Homo sapiens: one gene and its partners. The protein of the gene in region 1 interacts with the protein of each later gene in a biochemical or structural test. Each region holds a gene or a part of one and is shown on either strand. Other genes may lie near its edges.

What was found. The genes of interacting proteins can lie anywhere in the genome.
Region 2: of the proteins of NPY (region 1) and MEP1A, one has a biochemical effect on the other in vitro, tested with the Homo sapiens proteins (one study listed by BioGRID).
Region 3: the proteins of NPY (region 1) and NPY1R form a complex in vitro, tested with the Homo sapiens proteins (one study listed by BioGRID).

Annotation. Positions count from the first base shown.
Region 1 is NC_000007.14:24,287,170-24,292,374, forward strand, and holds the end of NPY (pro-neuropeptide Y preproprotein), read left to right. Parts: intron 1-2,329; coding exon 2,330-2,410; intron 2,411-4,493; coding exon 4,494-4,518; 3' UTR 4,519-4,693; downstream 4,694-5,205. UniProt on the Homo sapiens protein: NPY is implicated in the control of feeding and in secretion of gonadotrophin-release hormone.
Region 2 is NC_000006.12:46,789,108-46,796,401, reverse strand, and holds the start of MEP1A (meprin A subunit alpha precursor), read right to left. Parts: upstream 3,014-7,294; 5' UTR 3,004-3,013; coding exon 2,935-3,003; coding exon of another isoform or gene 2,851-2,934; coding exon 2,826-2,850; intron 2,737-2,825; coding exon 2,686-2,736; intron 1-2,685.
Region 3 is NC_000004.12:163,329,584-163,336,545, reverse strand, and holds the start of NPY1R (neuropeptide Y receptor type 1), read left to right. Parts: upstream 1-3,949; 5' UTR 3,950-4,064; exon of another isoform or gene 4,065-5,846; intron 5,847-6,962. UniProt on the Homo sapiens protein: Receptor for neuropeptide Y and peptide YY. The rank order of affinity of this receptor for pancreatic polypeptides is NPY > [Pro-34] PYY, PYY and [Leu-31, Pro-34] NPY > NPY (2-36) > [Ile-31, Gln-34] PP and PYY (3-36) > PP > NPY free acid.

The sequences.
Region 1 (5,205 bases):
TTGATGAGAAAAAAACATAAAGGAAAGGGACTTGGGTTTCATGGCAAGAGATTCAGCTTAGATGGGAATGAGCTGGTCTCTGAGGCAGAGTTTCCTGTCTCATCTTTGTATAAACTCCTTCTTAGAAACCAGCAGAGGCTCTTAATGTACGTCCATCTTCTCCTTCCCACCACAGACACCCACTCCTATGTGCGTTTCTGAAAATTACAGGGTCATTTGTGGATGTGCTTTAATTTAGTATAGATATAATCTGATATCATTATCTTTCTTTCCCCCCGCCCCCCGCCACCAGCATTCCCCCTGCACTCAATTTGTGCTTATATTCCTTTTGCTGTATATATACCCCTGGCTCATTGCTTCTGGAAGCTGCATTACTTATTCTAGAGTGTGGGTCTCCTACAATTTATTTATATAGCCCCCTAAATCAGTGGTTCTCAACTGGGGGTGATTTTATGCTCCCCAGGTGTGATTTGGCAGTGTCTGGAGACATTTTTGGTTTTCACAACTGGAGGTGGGCACTGCTGGTACCTAGGTGTATAGATGCCAAGGAGGCTGCTAAATATCCTACCATGCCCAGGACAGCCCCCATTACACAGAATAGCCAGTCCCAGAGAAACTCAGCCTTAGATTAGTGTTTCTCCTTCCTGGCTGCACATTAAAATTATCAGGGGAGCTTTTAAAATACACTGATGCTGGGATCCACCCCTGACCAATTAAATCAGACCCTCTGGGATGGGGCCTGGGCTTTAGAGTGTGTTTTTAACACTCCCCAGGTGATTCTAATGTGCAGCCAGGTTTGAGAATCTTTACTCTAAGGACTCAATCTTTGAAAGTTACAGCATTGTAGAGGGGAAGGATGATCCAGAATTAATTAAAGAAGGAAGAAGAGTGAACAGTACTGAACTGGATGCAAGATTATGACTGTGCAAATCCTCCTATTTCAGATTTAGGTTCTTTACTGGTAAATTGGATAAAAAGTTGGCAGTTCTTTTACTCACTGGAGCATGATGAAGATAAATGAGTTACAGTTGCCCTAGACTTTTACGATTAGTAAAACCAATGGATGGACAGAATAAATAAGTATAAGCAGACACCTATAGTCTAATATCGCAACTCCAGAAAATCTTTGAGAAAATCTCACACATGATGGGAGTGGGACAGGGAGTTGTTTTGTTTTTGCTTCCCTTGAGTCTCAGCAAAAGAACAGTCATAGAAAATATTTCCAAAAAATTTAGATATAATTTTGCTTGGCAATTAGAATATACCCTCTGTCAGCTTTGTTCAGTTGTTGGACCTATTAACCAATCCATACCAGACTAATTTATTTCTAAACAAAGTGGCGAATGGTGTCCAATGCCTTTTCTGAGAAAGAGAAAAATGGCCTCTTCAAAAGACGCAATTTGGTATAGACTTGTCTGGCCGTTTTGTAGTGTTCTGGAGTGGGGAGCATATACTACCCTCACAGGTAAACGAAACCTTACCTGTATGTATTGTCTCACCCATATCCTGCTACAGGAGAAAAAAAAAAAAAAAAAAAAAAGAACATTTCCATGGATCAGTTAGATTCCTTTAGACTTACAGGGAGGCTAAAATCACAGCATTAGGAAAGACTTTAGCATTTGGCACCTTGAATGAATATGGAAAATATAAGACCCAGGGTCTGTTGGTAGCCAGAAGAATGGATGCATTTCAACAGCAGTAATTTGCATGCGTGTATCACTTTGTCACTTTGAAAGCATTGTGACTCACATTTCACACTGGATGTTCACAAAGACTCTGATTTAAGCAGGGGTTGTTTTACAAACGAGAAAATTGGGATTCAAAGACACAGGTGGGTCTTGGACGGCAATCTGCTGATTTTTTTTTTCTAGGACTGTCTTTGAAATATCATCTGGTCTCCTTGTTAAGATTTAAACTGCTGTGTATCATCAGAACAATAGCCAATTAACTAATTGTGGAAACATTTACAATCATGCTTCCATGTTTTCAAATTTCCTGTCACCTAGTTATAAAAGTATGTATCTCTATACATATTATTTGTGGTTGTTTAAGAAGGCAGGAATTTGACTAGGAATTTTGGTTCGGTTTAAATAACCTCCTAGATTATTTATTATTTGAGCAAAGTTTAAATATATATACAAATAATTTGAAATAATATTTATGATAATGTTTCGATAATATATGCTTCATACACCTAGCTTGCTTGTTACAGATGAACACCTGACAATAATGTTTAGTTTTCATATCCCAAATAGGAGACTATCTTCCTTTTTCCTAAAGGTTTTTATGCCTATTCCAAACTTGCTTTAAAAGACTTTTTTTTTTCCAGATATGGAAAACGATCCAGCCCAGAGACACTGATTTCAGACCTCTTGATGAGAGAAAGCACAGAAAATGTTCCCAGAACTCGGTATGACAAGGCTTGTGATGGGGACATTGTTGCAGAGCTCAAGGTGCCCAGGGGAGGGAAGTCAGAGACAGGTGCCTGGTGGGAGGCACCACCAGGCTTCTAGACTAGGGGAGATTTCGGCAGAAATGAGGATGAAGAAGCAGGCAGAGGAGACCTCTCTTTTCATGTACTCATTGTCAAATCTCTAAACTTCTGTGGAATAACATTTTTTTAGCTCAGGTTATTTGGTGCTCCTTTGACGATTTTAAAAATAATTGACTTTTAACTTAGAAATTATATAGAATTTCTAACATTGTTGGAGTCAGGGGAGCATAGAGTGAGTCCCTGACTCTAAATTGAAATGACCAACTGTCCATCTCTGGCTGGGAAGATCTGTAGATTTTATATATGTGGAGTGTCCAGATGTCCTAGGAAATGTCCCATGTGGTTTTTACTCCAACTTTCCCAGTTTTACATGAAGCTGTAGGTAAATTAGGTGCTCTGGATTACTTTTTGACATATTTTAATTCAACTTGTGTCATATAGTGATTTATTACATTCAACGAATGCACGTTGAATGACAGTATTCTTAGGAGTTTATCTGTAGTCTCAGGACTTTCTTGCAGTTTGGGTCTGTCTTGGAAAGAGGTGCCCACCAATGTCTAAGTGTTAAACATTGAGCTAAGGTTTTCTGGTGCCTCCTGGACAAGGAGTGCTGCTGAAGAGGAGCCTGGTCCTCTTCCATCTTCATAACCTCCTGACTCTTCAGTCCTTGCTTCCTGTCTCTAACCACAGTAAGATCATAGTTCACAGGGTCCACCCACGTCTGTGGCAGCTTGGCTGCCTTAAACCAAGTTCTACAATGTCAAGAACCAAGTTCCCCAGAAGAGGTCACTACAACACTTGCTCAGTGAGTGTGACTGACGTGGCTCTCCATCAAGTTCTCCCTAGAGACTCAGCAGGGTGACCCGCTGGGCCACCCACCTTCCCTTCTAACCTCCCTCAGTTCTCTTCTAAAATGGCCAGCCAGCATGAAGGGTGTTAGTATAGAGTTGTGAGATTTGTTTTCTCTAAAGGGAACAACGATTTGAACTGAGATAAAACTCCAGTGCTCCTGTCCCTGGAGGAACCAGCCCAGACTTAAATAGCAAATGCAAGGGAAACAGGCAGAAAATTTGTAAGGGTTATCTTTTTTTAATTAAATAATAATAATAATAATTATTATTATTATTCAGAGACAAGGTCTCCTTCTGTCACTCAGGCCAGAGCACAGTGGTGCAATCAAAGATCACTGCAGCCTCGAGCTCCCAGCCTCAAGAGATCCTCCCTCCTCAGCCTGCCCAAGTGCTAGGATTACAGTTGTGAGCCATAATGCCTGGCCAGGGTTGTCTTTAACACTAAGCAGTAAATGTCTTTCCATGTTTCACTGACATGCATATGATGTTTGCCACAGTAAAAAGTTTAGGGTAGACTATATCGACTTACTGTTAGAAAAATAACAACGCAGACCTACTTAGAACCTTGGTTTTTGTCTTTGTTTTGTGGCCCAAGGTCACACAGTTAGTGCATGAAGTAAAATTAATTGCAACCTGATTGACAGACTCCATCAGGTGCAGTTAGAAGGAGACAAAACTTGACGGTCTTGAAGTTGCCTATGAGTGCTATTTTATTATAAAGGTCTTATTATAGTCTAATAAGTAGCATCTTACTACATAATAAAGCTGGCAGGAAAAGGAAGCATATTTAGAGTTGAGGAACAATAACTTTCCTGTCACAGCTTCATGTGATTTCTGTAATTTTGATTTTCAAAAGATCGGGGTGTTCTTCGGCTCCTTTGATACATACAGAGCCTTTCAAATGCTCTCTCTGATGTTTGCCCAAGACGCCTGTCAACATCGTGGAATGCTGCTCAGCTGGGGCTGTGCATATTGTGCCTCCGCCTCACGATCTGATATTCCACATGGCTTCTTATTTAGAATGCCAACAGGAAACTTTTCAACAGTTCCCGGTCATCTTTCACTTCAGATCTAAATGTCTCACCCTTGCTCATACCTCAGGAAGTTGGGCAGCTTTCCTTACATGCTTTGCTTCTTATGTTTTACAGGCTTGAAGACCCTGCAATGTGGTGATGGGAAATGAGACTTGCTCTCTGGCCTTTTCCTATTTTCAGCCCATATTTCATCGTGTAAAACGAGAATCCACCCATCCTACCAATGCATGCAGCCACTGTGCTGAATTCTGCAATGTTTTCCTTTGTCATCATTGTATATATGTGTGTTTAAATAAAGTATCATGCATTCAAAAGTGTATCCTCCTCAATGAAAAATCTATTACAATAGTGAGGATTATTTTCGTTAAACTTATTATTAACAATTAGTCATTATAGTCTCCCTCAACTAGCAGATTCAGGGTTCGTTTCGCTAATATTAAAACAGCGGCTATGAAAGATATGAAGATATGATTATTCATGATAACCAAGATCAGCTGTGTGGTGTGTGTGTATGTGTGTAAAACATATAGATGCATTTGAAGATATTGATCAAAGGAATGCTAATTTGGGAAATTTTTCTGAGCTTTCCCCCCATTAACATTGGAACCCTTTTGCTAACCTTGTTAACCAGTGCTGTCAGCAGAAGAACTTCCTGACTAACTAGAGCTTTCTGTGGAATGTCCTTTATCCCTCTGTCTAATATGGCAGCCACTAGCCACATGTGGTTTTTGAGCCCCTGAATGTAGTAAGTGCAAATAAAGAGATGAGTTTTAAATTTTATTTAATTTTAATGAATTTTAACTTAAATGGCCATTAAGTCTCTAGT
Region 2 (7,294 bases), on another chromosome or scaffold:
AGGCAGGGCCTCCCACAGGAGGTGGCATTTTAGCAGAAATATGATAGAGTGAGGGAATGAAGGAAGAGTAGGGGAGGTAGAGGCAACACCAGATAGAAAGGTCCTGTGACAGGAAAGCCTTGATGTCTTAGGGCAGTGGTCCTAAACTTGAGCATCAGAGTCCCTTGGAAGGCTTGGTCAACACCCGTTGATGAGCCCCCACCGTTGGATTTCTGGTCCATTAAGTCTGGGGTGAGGCCTGAGAATGTTCATTCCTAACAAGTTTCCTGGTGATGCCGATGCTGCTGGCTTGGGGACAACACATCGAAAATCACTTCCTTAGAGGAGTAGCTGTGCAGTCAGGGTGGCTGGAAAGCTCAAGTAGGAAGGGGAAGAGTAGTCAGGGGCAGATTGACTCACACTCTGATGTGCATAGAAACCACTTGGGTCTGTCAAAATGAAGATGCTAATTCTGTAGGTCTGGGGTGGATCCTCAAATGCTGCATTTCTAAGAGAAAGCTCTTGAGTGACACAGATCACTTTGGCCTGTGGACCACACTTTGGGAATCAAGGCTCTAGGGCCTTTACTTTATGTTGAAGGAGAAGTCATTAGATGGTTGGAGCAGAGAAATGACATGATCTGAAGGATATTAAAAGGAGAGCTCTATGTTGTGCAGAATAGTCTTTAGGGAGCAAAGGCAGAAAGGGAAGCACAGTTATGAGGCCTGTCAAAGGACCAGCCCAGACATGAGGTGGCTGACCAAGGTAGGGGCAGTAAAAGTGCTGAAAAGTCTCAACTGTAGTATGATTTGAAAGTAGATCTAGGCCAGGCGTGGTGGCTCATGCCTGTAATCTCAGCACTTTGGGAGGCTAAGGTGGGCGGATCACAAGGTCTTGAGTTCAAGACCAGCCTAGCCAACATAGAGAAACCCCATCTCTACTAAAAATAGAAAAACTAGCCTGGCATGGTGGTGGGCACCTATAATCCCAGCTACTCGGGAGGCTGAGGCAGGAGACTCGCTTGAACCCAGGAGGCGGAGGTTGCAGTGAGCCGAGATGGCACCACTGCACTCGAGCCTGGGTGACATAGCAACACTCCATCTCAGGAGAAAAGAAAAGAAAAGAGAAAAAAGAAAAGTAGATCGAGTAGATCGAATAACATTTGCTGACAGATTGTGTGTCAGGTGTGAGAGAAAAGCAAGAGTTAGGGGCAACTCTAACATTCTGAGCCGAAAATCTAGAAGGAGTGAGTCACATTTACTGAAATGAAAAGGACTGAGAGGAGCAGGTCTTGGGATGGAGGATAAGAAACGTTTACTCAGCCTTGTGAGGCAAAAAGAAGATGGTAAAAAGGTGGCAATTTTCTCTATATGATTTTCCCAATTTATGGTGTTAGAATCTGGCCATATGGCTAACCCAATCAATCCTGGTGGTTTGGTTGAAATGGCCTAAAAAGAAGATTTACATGGTAATGAGATTTCTCCACTGGGGTCAAGGATCAGAGGTGGTGGTGGGCCTAAAGAGTACAAAATGGCAAAGAGGTAAATAATTAATTTTTATTAGATAAATAATGATGAGATTAGAAAAACTCTAATTCTAATCCCATTTCTGTTGTAAAATACAGCAGATTCTCTGAACTGTTTACACAATGGCTAACTCTAAAGAGAGATATTTTAGTGCCTGGCTCTGAAGTCTTGGGACCCATTTATGCATTCACCCATTTACCTTCCTAAACTATTTCTGCTCTGCCTATGCAGCCATTCTCCAGCTATTCCAATTAAATATCAACTAACTGGCTTCTCTGTGAGTGAGACAAAGCCAGAAAAATTGACCCTTAGTTATTGGTATGTTAGTTTTGTAGCCTTCAGATAGCACTGAGCTATTAAGGTATGGGCTACAAGATCTGGAAGTAAGCCCCATCACTGCTACCTATGATCTTGAGCAAGTCACTCTACCCATGAGAAGCCACCTGTCGCTTCCCAAAAAAATGAAAACAGCACTTACTCCACGACAAGACTGGACAAATAAATATGCAATTGCATATAAAAGCTTTTGTAAACTGAAGGTACTTATTATCATGAATAGCTCTGCTTCCACAAATCCTGACCTAAGACACTGGGAATGCAGAGGCTTCTCTCTCATTTCAGAAGCAGGACAACAGAGAGAAAACAGAGATGATGACTCAGCTTCTCTCTCCTCTCAGTAATGGATGAGACTGATGAATTTCTTCAAGAAATATATTTGTAAATGAGATGTCTAAGTGGAGATTGCTTTACACTCACCCCTAAGTCTCAACCGAGGAGTTGTTAGTGAATATGATGGGCCAGTGGAGGGGTTGGGTTTTGTTTCCCCACTAAATATAACCAGAGGCTTATTCTTATATTTTTCTTTAACAATCGGAATAATTATCTATTTGCTTTCCTTTTCCTCCAAATACAAATTGGAAAAATAAAATTTTTATAAAGAGAAACTTGTTACATATTTCTAGATCCATTGAGGACTTCCTAGCTCTCCTAGAAAGTCTGGTCTAACTATCTTCTCTTTCCGCATTTTTATCTTTCAGAAAATGCAATTTCTCACAAAGCACCAAAAAATATTTCTCCCCCAGAGAATCACAATACAGTATTAGGAAGGAAAGTGTTCAGTAATCCCACCACTGGGTTTCAAGTAATTTCAAGACTTTAATAACACAAAAATTGAACTCACCTAAATTGATTTCTGAAATATCCTTCTGTTCACCAAAATCTGCATCATGTACTGTTAAAAGTGAGAAAAAAAATTATTATTAGTCTTGCCGAAGGAAAAAAGTTCAAAAACACTCTCTGTGCATTTGAACTAATTCTTACCATTTTCTTCAGGAAGATACTTAATCTGAAAAAAATAAATATACAGAAAATGGATAATGTATACTAGAATTAATATTTCTAAATATCCAAAAAGCAGGACTCGACTTACCGGTACAGCTGCTATGTGGGCAAAAAGCAAGGTAAAAAAGAGAATGCAAGTGGATCTAATCCAAGCCATTGCTGCAAGTGAGCTGATTTTAGCACACACCTTGTCATAAATACCGTTTAGACTTTACCCTGACGGTCGTATTAGAAACTTTGACCCTTCCATATGTACCGTAGTGCCAATAAAGGTTGTCAAAGATAACATCATTGACTCTTTCGAGGACAAACACTAAGTTTACCTTAAATGCTTAAGCTCCAAAGACTGGGGAAAAGTTTGAAAAATTAATACGGAAATGAGCATATAAGAACTAATAACATTCCTATAGGGCAGCCATAGCCATTCATATCATAAAACAGGATAGACGATCCCCTTAACAATAAAAATAAAAATAATTTATAAAATTATTATTATTTAATTCTAATAAAATATAAATTCAAATTTTATGGAAATGTTATAAAGCAATTATTGAAGGACATAAAAATACCTGACTCTCTCTCTATATGTACATATGTATGAAATATTAATAGATTGTTTTAATATTAATCTATAAATTCATTGTCATTCTAGTAAAAAATCTAACAGGGTTTTCAGTGGAACTTGCCAAGCTGACAAATGGTTCAATTCGCATGAAAGAGTAAACATTGAAGAATAGATAAGAAAATTCTGAAAAGGCTGAATAAAGAGAAAAGAATTGCCTCAAAAGAATATCAGGAGCTTTGGTAAAGTTACAGTAATTAGAGTGTAATAGTTCCAAAAATAAAGATAAAATGAATCTATAGACTGGAATAGGTAATATCCAAATAGATGCAAGCATATGCAGGGCTTTTATGTATAAGAGGAACCAAAAAGGCAAGAGGGAAACTTGGGTCTCTTTCATAATAATGTGGGAATAATTGCATTTCCATATGAGGAAATACATTAAATGTACACCTGATACCATTGACAAAAATAAATTCTAGATAGATTAAAAATTTAAATATGAAAATATAAACTTCAAAAAAGAAAATATAGGAACATATTTTTAACCTTTAGGTCAAGAAAGATTGCTTAAACATGAAAAAAACATAGAAATTACAGAGGAAAAGAATAATACATTTGACTGTATCAAAATTTAAACTTCTTTATGACAAAAACATAACATGATTAAAAGACAAGCCACAGGTGAGAGATGATATGTATACTGCATATAATTGAATAAGAATAAGTATTCAGGATATGTAAAGAATTTCTACAAATCAATAAAAAGAACAGGAGATTATCTAAGGAAAAAATGAACAAAAAATATGAGTAGCAAATTCACAAAAGACCCAGATGGCCAATAAATATGTAAAAAGATTTTTAGCCTCGTAAGTAATCAGAAAAATTATAGGTTCAAATAGCAGTAAAATACCACCTCAAGCTAAGATTGGCATAAATTAAGAAGACTGACAATATCAAGTGTCAACAAGAAGGTAAGAAAATAGGAAATCTAGTAGGACATCAATTTGATGCTATCTAATGAAGTTGAAATGTGCACAGTTCATAAGATAGAAACTTCACTTCTAGGTCTATATGCTAAAGGAACTCACACATATGTGCACAAAATTCCACATAGCATATTCATTGAAGTTTTTTTGTTATGGTAAAGAATGGGGAAAATGTGTTTATACTAAAAGAAAAGATAAATTATGGAATATATTCAGCCATGCACAGGTAAATGTTTAATAATCGGCTCTTTTAAAAAAAGTAAAAACAAACAAGCAAACAAACAAAACCAAGCCTTTATTTGTAGTGTTTGTTGATTGCCATGGTCAATTTCAAGCTACCAACACCATGTCACTGAATGCAGTGTTGGGAAGAGATGTACACAGTGGGCTCCATCTGCGCCAGCACAATACTAAATATATGCACACACCCACCTATTCTTGCCTGCACCAGATATAAGAATCTTTGGCATTAGAGCAATCTTCAAGGTCTAGAGCCTGCATCTCTCTACCTCAGACTTACTACTGGGCAGGTGGGCTAGTCCTGCTGTCAAAAAAGCATTTCCTGTCACAAAAGACTTTTAGAAGGTGAACAGTAGAGCTTCTTGAGCTGTAAAATAGGAGGCATGTCAACTGGGGGCCTGCTTCTGATGGGCAGAAGCGTTCTATGGCTGATTTTTGTTTTACCTAAGCCACTGATGGTGAGGTGATAAAAGGCCATCTTCCACCGTCTCTAACCATTACAAACCACTAATATTATTTTTTAAACGAAACAAAACAAAACAAAAAGCCAAATTTGCCCAACAGCCGCAATGACTTAAGTGAGCAACTACAATCTAGACCATTTAAAAATTGGGCAATAATCAAATTTTAAAACTGGCCAACATCGTAAGAATAATTGGCTTTAAGTATCAGTGTGGAAAACATATGAGACTTTTATTTCTTAAATGTGTTGTTTAATTTTTCTCAAATTCTGAAGCAATTATGGTAAAACTGAATATTTGGTAAAACTGAATATTTGTTAATCTTGGAAACCAGGAAGTAGGAGTTTGTTATTTTATTTTCTAAAGAAAAAGGCAGTGCTGTTGCTTTGGTACACCTCTCTACTAAATCTCAGGTATCAGGATTTCAAACAGGGAATAGTGAGGCTGTTTAATTCTCTCCACCTTCTCTTGCTTCCAGCCAGATGTGTTTTTATCTTTCCCTGCCTTCTTAAACTTATCTGAATGATATACTACAACAATGGCTTTGGAATCAGATAAGCAGGAACTCCACCTCTACCATTGACTAGCTACAGTAATTTTAGTACCTGCTTTTTATGTGTAGAATGGATAGTGGTGCCTACTTCATGGGGCCAATGTAAAGATTCAATGAGATAACATATGTAAACCACAGCTACTAGAAACATAGGAAGCACTCAATAAACTGCTCCTTCTACCTGCTAGTTAGCAACTGCCTCCTAGCAAAACATGGGCACTAAAAACACAGCTCAGCCCACTCCTTGCTCAGTAGAATCTCCAGTGATGAGAACATAGGTCTTCAGCAGACACAACTTGCCCCCAATTATTTTATTGTCACAATCTTAATGGCAGATGTTAATTAGTTACCAGCTATTTGCAATCCTAGTCACTTCTTCATTGTGTCAGGGTATCAAATGAGTAAGGCTGGGGCCTTAAGTCCTTCATTTGAAGGGTTTATGGCTTTTCAGTTTAAAGAAGATTATGCACTCTGTGGTCAAGGTCCATGCTTTATTTCCTGTATTTGCCCCAGTGTTTGGAAACATAGTAGGTAATTAGTTCTCATTTTAACTGAAAAAAGTAAATAGAAATTTCTCTGAAGGTATCGGATGGGGTGACTTGCTTTGATCTCAGGAAGGGCATTTCATAAACTGACCAGTTGAGAAAGTGGTCTGAAGCTTAGAGGAAGAAAGCCATTGACAGGTAGAAAATGGAAAAACCCGCCCCCAGCTATTTCCACACACTCTCCAGCTTCATAAAAGCTCAGGCAAGGAGTTGGGCTAAGAGACTTGCAAAGTCCTCTCACCCCAAACCCTTCTCAAGGATGTTCTCTGCCCTCTTTCTACTCTATTGCAAGATGCTGATTCCTTCTGCTTCACTCACAGAGTTCTGCCTTCAACCAGCTGTCAGCTAACCTGAAACACAACAGTCCTTGTTCCTCCCAGGGCAATCAACATATTAACAGGGGCCCAAAGGTGTATAGAGCAAGAGTCGGCAAACTGTCTGTAAAGGGCAAAGAGATATATGTCAAGCATTGTGGGCCATATGAGCCCTGTTGTAGCTATGTAACTCTCCTGTTGTATGTAGCATAAAGTAGCTGTAGACAATAATGTAAAGGTGTGAACATGGCTGTGTTCCAATAAAACTTTATTCACAAAAACAAAGCAAAGGGTCATAGTTTGCTGACCCCTGGGTTTTAGAGAATAACCCTCAAGGTGGTGGAAATTGAGACGGTGATAATAATTATAACAGAAGCAGTAGCAGCAACCAACATGTACATAGTACTTACTGTGGGCCAGGCAGTATTCCAAGTATCTAAGGGTAATTATCCATTCAATCCTCACAACAATCCTACGAAGAAGCAACTATTATTATCTCCATTTTATATATTAAGAAACTGAGATGAAGAAAAATTAAGGAACCTTCTCAAGGTCATGCAGATCCTGAACAATGCTCCTAAATTCCACCTGAGAGGCAGTTCTTTACACCTATGTCTGGCCTTTGACAGCCCAGGAGTGAGGCCTCCACCATTATGCTGTAGCATGCAGACCCCTGGTTTCACAGGGTTCCATCTCTAACAGTTTACTAAGAAGAATTAACCCTGAGGGAAACAGTTCCCAAGCTATAGATTCCTTCAAAATCCTCTGGATGGTTTGTTGAGGT
Region 3 (6,962 bases), on another chromosome or scaffold:
GGAGTCAGGGGCAAGACGACCAAGTAGAGATGTTTGTCACAGATGATGAGAGCTGTTGTGGTGGCATTCATACTTATTCTTTTTGCCAGCTATTTTTATTTTGTCTCTTCAAAAGAATATATGAAGGGAATAGTAATAATAATTATTAAAAACAGTAATAGTAACAGTGGCAAAGCTCCTTTCATTATATCATATAGTAAAAACATAATGTTATGGTTTTGTAATATAACATTACACTTTTTTTTGAATGTCTAAAGGGTATCTGAAAGTATAAGGCATGCAGAAAAAGATTTGGCTATTTACTAAATTTTAAGATCCTACTTGTCTAGAGCCTTATTGTGACAGAGTTTTTAAAAATGCCCCGAAATATGCAGCCCATGTAACAAAATGAGAACTTTACTGAAAGGCATTCACATTTCAAATCAAGATCAAGAGAAAATCCACAAATAGTATTGTGTGTTTTCTGCACAAAGGAGATCATTGAATTGTCTGTGCACTTGTATACTCACATTTTTAACTAAATTAATCATCACTTTTTTTCTGCTAGTTAATGCTCTCCAAAAGTCAGATGAATAAAATGATTGTACTGACTATTTGATTGTGCTGATTAAGTCAAAACTCTTTACCAACTATATTTCATTGGCTTTAAAATGTGGGCTTAAAAAGCATTTTAATATTTTAATATTCATTTGCTATTGATGGTATGCCATTGCTTTACTGAAAGCATTTTTTTCTTGGTGGTCCATAAAATAAAATTGTGCTTTACATTCTTGGGCGTCAAAGATCCAAAGAAATGCAGCAGGTAAGTCACAGAAAGAAGGAAAATCCTGACACAAAATCAATTCATAGAATATGAACTGATTCACTGACGTGCTTCATCATAGTTCTACCCCCATGGAATTACCCCCTTATCAATGTCATATACATTTCAGTTTTCTCGTGTAGTATTAATGCCTATTAAGTTTCTTCTGAGTGACAATTCATGGTAATTTACCTGTATCAAGGCCTGATAGCATTTCAGAAACTTTAACTCTTGTAGCAGAAATTCCTCAGAAGACTAGTAATTAGTGTGTTTCAATTCCAGTAGCAAGCATACTGTCACACTTTTATTTAAGCAGTTACTGAATCATGGAATTTAAAGGCTGAGCCAGGCCATAAGTTTGTTCCATTGTTTAGAATACAAAACTTAGATTTACAGAAATTTAATGAGTAGATCCTATCCCTCAGTTTATATCACAGAGCAAGACTGTTGTTCAAGAGAGCATGAGATTAGGTCATTAACATAATTCCCCTTGGTTTATAGGTCAGGCTGTTATGAAACTACAGAAAGAAATACACAGAAATAAAGAAAAAATTCTCCCTAGCAAAGATGAAGTTTTATCTAGTTTGAATCCCAGATAGGAAAGTAGGCAGCTGATTATTCACTGAAGAGTAGAAAAATATATGATCTTAAAATTGGAATGAGGAAACTCTTTAATAAGTATTTTCTAAGAAATTCAAACTACTTTGCATATTTTAAATCTTCTATAAGATTACATTATTGGAGAATTTTATGTTGTGTTTGGCCATTGGACCATGTCTAATTTCTCTATTTTTCACATTGGAAAGAATCCTAGTAAATGGTATTCCTAAAGAATTATATAATTTTGCTGTTGAGCATTTCTTTTTTTTTTTTTTTTTTTTTCCAAAACAGAGTCTTGCTCTGTTGCCCAGGCTGGAGTGCAGTCGTGCGATCTCGGCTCACTGCAACCTCTGCCTCTTGGGTTCAAGCAGTTCTCCTGCCTCAGCCTCCTGAGTAGCTGGGATTACAGATGCGCACCACCACACCTGGCTAATTTTTGTATTTTTAGTAGAGACGGGGTTTCACTATGTTGGCCAGCCTGGTCTCGAACTCCTGACCTCATGATCCACCTGCCTAGGCCTCCAAAAGTGCTGGGATTACAGGCGTGAGCCACCGCCCCCAGCCACTGTTGAGTATTTCAGAACTTCTCTTTGTATCATAAAGTTGTCATAGAAAAGAGTCCTTGAGACCAATGATCTTTCAAAGATTGGTATCTGACATTAATAACTCAAGAATGCAGTTTCACAAATTTTCCTTAGGGAGAACACTTCATAAAAATTGAGTTAATAAAATGATAAAATACAATGGCCATAATAGTTCAGAACTCTGGCAGACATGCCTTTATTAGTATTCTTGGGAAATAGAGAAAGCATAGTACCTGAGTCCAAATTATATTCTCAAGTCCAAAATATTTGCTGACATAATAATAGTTTCTACATAAAAATATATTCTTAGTAGAGAATTAAATTACTTCATTTGTAATTCTTATAGCAGGCTAAAGATAGCCAATTTGATGATCAAAACCATGGGGAAAACTTCCTTCTAAGAACAGAATGTGACTTAAGGCAATAGAGTAGACAGAGGATGCATAGAAACCTGAATGAATATTAGTTATTCTTCCCTGAAAGAGTTGAAATTCCTAAATTGTGCCTTGGTAAAAATTATTGTGCCTTGGTTAAAAAAAAAAGTATGTGTGTGTATATGTGTGTGTGTGTATAAATGAATCTGTTGTCATTTTACTCTGCTTAACCATTAGAGATTTTTATATGTATGCTTATATCTGTTGTTATACACTAATAGTACAATCATTACATAATCATGACATTTTAATTCTTAATTACAATGCCTTTCCAACTATATAAAAATATGTCTAGTGACACATATTTTGGAAAGCTTTCTTGGAAAAACATCCAGAGATTGTGTTCATCACTATCTATATAAATGAGCTTATACTGAACCTTAAATATGTTTATTCAGCCTAACAATCAGAAAAAGAAAACGTTTTTTAACAGTATAAAGTTCAGATGAGTCCACTTGTCTTGGAATTTTATTTTGATTTTAATTAGAAGAAAGACTGCCATTAGAATTGTTTTCTAATGAAATCTTTATAAATTCTCTGGGCAGTGCCCTGTATCTTTATTAGAAAGACTTCTTATTTTTAACAATTTTATTTGGAAGAAGTTCTACTCATTTGCATCAGTTCATCGTCTACATAATTTGTGTGTGTGTGTGTGTATGTGTGTGTTTACAACTTTGACTTTTGAAACTAGAATAGAATCAGGTAAAACATCTAAGATCAGTGTGCCAGTAATTGGCCTGAATCATCGGGCACCATGATGGGTTTGGCCGCCTTCAACGTACTCGGTGTACATTCTATTTTTTTCTTCATAATGTTCAGTACTGTAGTACTAATCACCGAGAAAATTGCATTGACGCTTTTCGACCACCAGGGAAATATTCAGCTCATGGTTCTCCCCTAAAAAAACTAAAAAGCAGCTAAGCGCTGGGAACAAATCTGACTTAATGCATTTTCTCAGTGGGCCAAAGAAAGGAGGGCCGATTGACTGCTTTGACTTTTTAAAGGTCTTCTCTTTGTTCACTTATAAAGTGAGGAAAACAAATTCTCGGCACTGGCGTGAGAGTTATTTGAGCGTCACAAAAGAAAGCAAAAGAAAATATTAGTGCCATTATTGTGGCGAATTTCATGTTTCCCAGCGAGCCCTTTGATTCCTGGTTTGGGCTGGCGCTCGAGCTCTCCAGCCGGGTATGACTTCGGCCACAAGATGGCACTGACCTGCAAACAAAGAAAAGCACAGTGGCACCGACTTTTTCAAGCCTCGGGAAACTGCCCTGCCTTCCCCGGAGTCGAGGACTGTGGGGATTAGGGCTTCCTTTCCCCTGCGCGGGAGGTCTGTGTCGAATAATGTGTGGCTTCTGTTGGATTGCTTTTCTTTCCAAAATTCCTAGGCAATGCTTCCCCGAGGTGTGCACCTTTGTGAGGTGTTTGTGGGGTTGGGGGAGCTTCAGGCGCTACTCGCGGGACGCCGTCACGTGATCCGGGATGAGGTGGAGTTCGGCTTTAAGGAGGCGTCTCTTCCTAGCTTCATCAATCTTTAGGATCTGAGCAGGAGAAATACCAGCGGATCTTCCCCACTCTGCTCCCTTCCATTCCCACCCTTCCTTCTTTAATAAGCAGGAGCGAAAAAGACAAATTCCAAAGAGGGTAAGTTGCGAGTTTATGCCTTTCCAGAGACTTCTGCGAAATCTCTCATTGACAAGGTGAAGGATGAGAGGGGAAGAAAAACGATGCGAGTGTCCGAAACTGGCTCTGGGGGACCAAGGTGGGGTCTCCAGTGCAGGCAGGTCGCAGGTTGCTCCAAATCACCGGACCGTTCGCGGGCTCCTGCCGAAGGGTATGGGGACGACGCGGGTGAAAGGAGAGGGTACCCTACGCGGAGTTCGGGCTTTCCCACCACCTGCTCCCGGGGAATTTCTGGATGGGGATCCAAGTTTTCCTTTACCCCGGTTCTCTTTAAAAGGCCGAGGCACTGGGAAGGCGCCCGAGTTCGCCTATCCCACACCCGCTCATTTTCCTTACGTGTCTTGAGCTGGCTGGAGGCGCTGGCTCTGGCCGCACCGGAGTTTTCGCGGAGTAACTGGCTGGGATGAGCCGGAGAAGGGTGGGCTTGGCGCGTCGCCCAGCGTCGCACGGGTCCCGCGGCAGGTGTCGGGCTGGGAGCTGGCGGAGGTGGGAGTAGCCCTCGGCGCGGACCCCAGCGCGCAAGCCCACCCCCACTTGCGGGTTCCGCGCTTCTCGGCTGCAATCGAGCCGCGCTCCGCAGTACCGGGCGCTTCGAGTGTGGCGCTGCGCCCCGATAGACACCCGAAGCTTTTAATCATCGGAGTTCTAATCAGGGAACTCTTTAGCTCTTTCTTTTAGAAAAGTAATGATGGAACGTGGCTGGGTTAGGAGATTGGGAATGGACAGGAGGTGGAGGTGTCTTGATAGGGTGTGCCATTGGTTCCCAGGTAGACTGGAGAGATAAGAATGTTTTAAGGTCTGATGTTGGGCCAAAGAGAGAGAATTGACTTCGGTTTGGGATCTGCTTGGTTTTGGTTGTTTATATCTTTTCTCTTTTGCCAGTCTCTTATCACTGGTAGAAAGGTTTTTTGATGAGAGAGAGAGAGAGAGTGAGAGTGTGTGTATGTGTGTGTAGTAGGGAGTCAGGAATGGAGTAAATTTCGGGCGATTCACCTAGTTACGCAATATGAAAAAGGTGGGTGGGTAAGCGTGCCAACAGGAATTTTGACTGAACATGTCCCATTTCCCATTTCGTTGTTTGATAACTTCTGGAGCACAGGAAAAACCTAGGGGAGAGGAGCAAAAGAGAGTGTGTTTCCATGTACACACACTCACACTCACACACACACAGAGCACGCATTGCTTCCCCCACTCCCCATCCTATGAGAAAGCATGACGGGCGGGATGGCACACACAGGCAGGGGACATGTGGAGCTTGTCTGTCAGGTCTGGAACAGAAAAGCAGTAGCTGTTTGTTCTCGACCCTGGGCCGGCTCTCTGGCGAAGCAAGCGAGGGAGCAGAAAGCTAACCCGACCAGGTTCCCCACCCAGGACTAGACCGAGTGCTCTTCCGTGACTACTACTTTATTAGTCTTTATTGTCTTAAGGCAGCAGTCTGTTGAACAAGCCCTCCCCAGCAAGGAAGGAGCAGAGAATTATGTAATTCATTTAGATAAGCTAGCAGTAACTTTGGGAGGCTGTATGTAACAAGGCTGACATTTCTTTTCCAACACAAGTGAGGTGAACAGCCAGCCAATCCTGAGTATTTGAAAAAATGTATCTGCAGCAGGTTATGATCAGGGAGCTGTATTTTCAAGTAGTAACAGCACTGCGAAGAGCAAGCAATGAAAGGCCAGCATTCTAATTGGAAAGAAAGAAGAGGAAATTTCCCTCTGCAAGGGGGCTAATTTGCCAACTGGTGATGTATGTAATGTCTGTTTTGTCTCTATATGCACATGGCAGCTACACTGAGATTTAACAGTCTTTAATTTTTGCAGTTTCTGCAGTTGCATAGCTTATTTTACAAATTATATTAGAATAGTAAATATCAAATTATTTTCTTTTGCAAAGATAAAGTGTGTAAATTCTCTCTTAGTATTGTTATTTTCTGACAGTTATTCTTTCTTGAAATTACACTAAGGTAAACTGAAAATACACATTTATCCAATGCAGAATTGGTTTACACAACTGGAATAACTATCAAATGTGCACTTAGTAAAATAGGCTTGAAAACACCTTAAAAAAATAAACTTTTCATTTTCTCTATAGCTAAATTAACTTCTACCTAGTAAGAAAAATGCTTCCTCATTGGGCATGCCTATTAAATACAATTTCAAAGGTATCAGGCTAGAGCTTCAGTACGTTTACCTGAACTCATCTGTAAGAAAGCTATGTTTGTAGCCTGTACTTTGCAATAATTTAATGTCTGTGTGAATTCTTATATGTATTCATTTTTGCCAAAATCAGTCAGTGGATAGAATATTTCTGTTTCTTTTTCTCCATGGTATACATCTTGGTCTCTGTCCCTATTATTTCTCGCCAAAATTATTGCACTAGCTTTCTAATGAATCTCCCCATTTCTTCTCTTTCCTTGAGTGTGTTGAAAACAGCAGCGAGAATAGTAATTTTAAATCAAAAGTCATAAAACTTCACACCTTTGCCAAAGACTCTCCAGAGGCTCCCCAGCTCTCTCAGGATTATAGGCACAGACCATAAAAAAAAAAGGCTCTACAGTCTGTACCCCCCTCTTTAGCCTTCCTAATTAATTTCCTAAGAGTCCCTCCCTTATTTATCCTACTTCTTATTGCTACTTAGCACACCAGTTACACATGGGCCTTAGGGATTTTTGTTCTTTCCATATGGGATGCAATCCCTGAGATACTTGCATAGCTTCCCTACTCACCACTCCTCTCAGGTCTTAACTTACATGCCTTCTTCTCAGACAGTCAGAGGCCATCTTTTACAGTCAAGTAATAAATTGCAGCTCCCCCAAATCCCAGTTTCTCTTTCTTTTTTTTTTTTTGAGACGGAGTCTTGCTC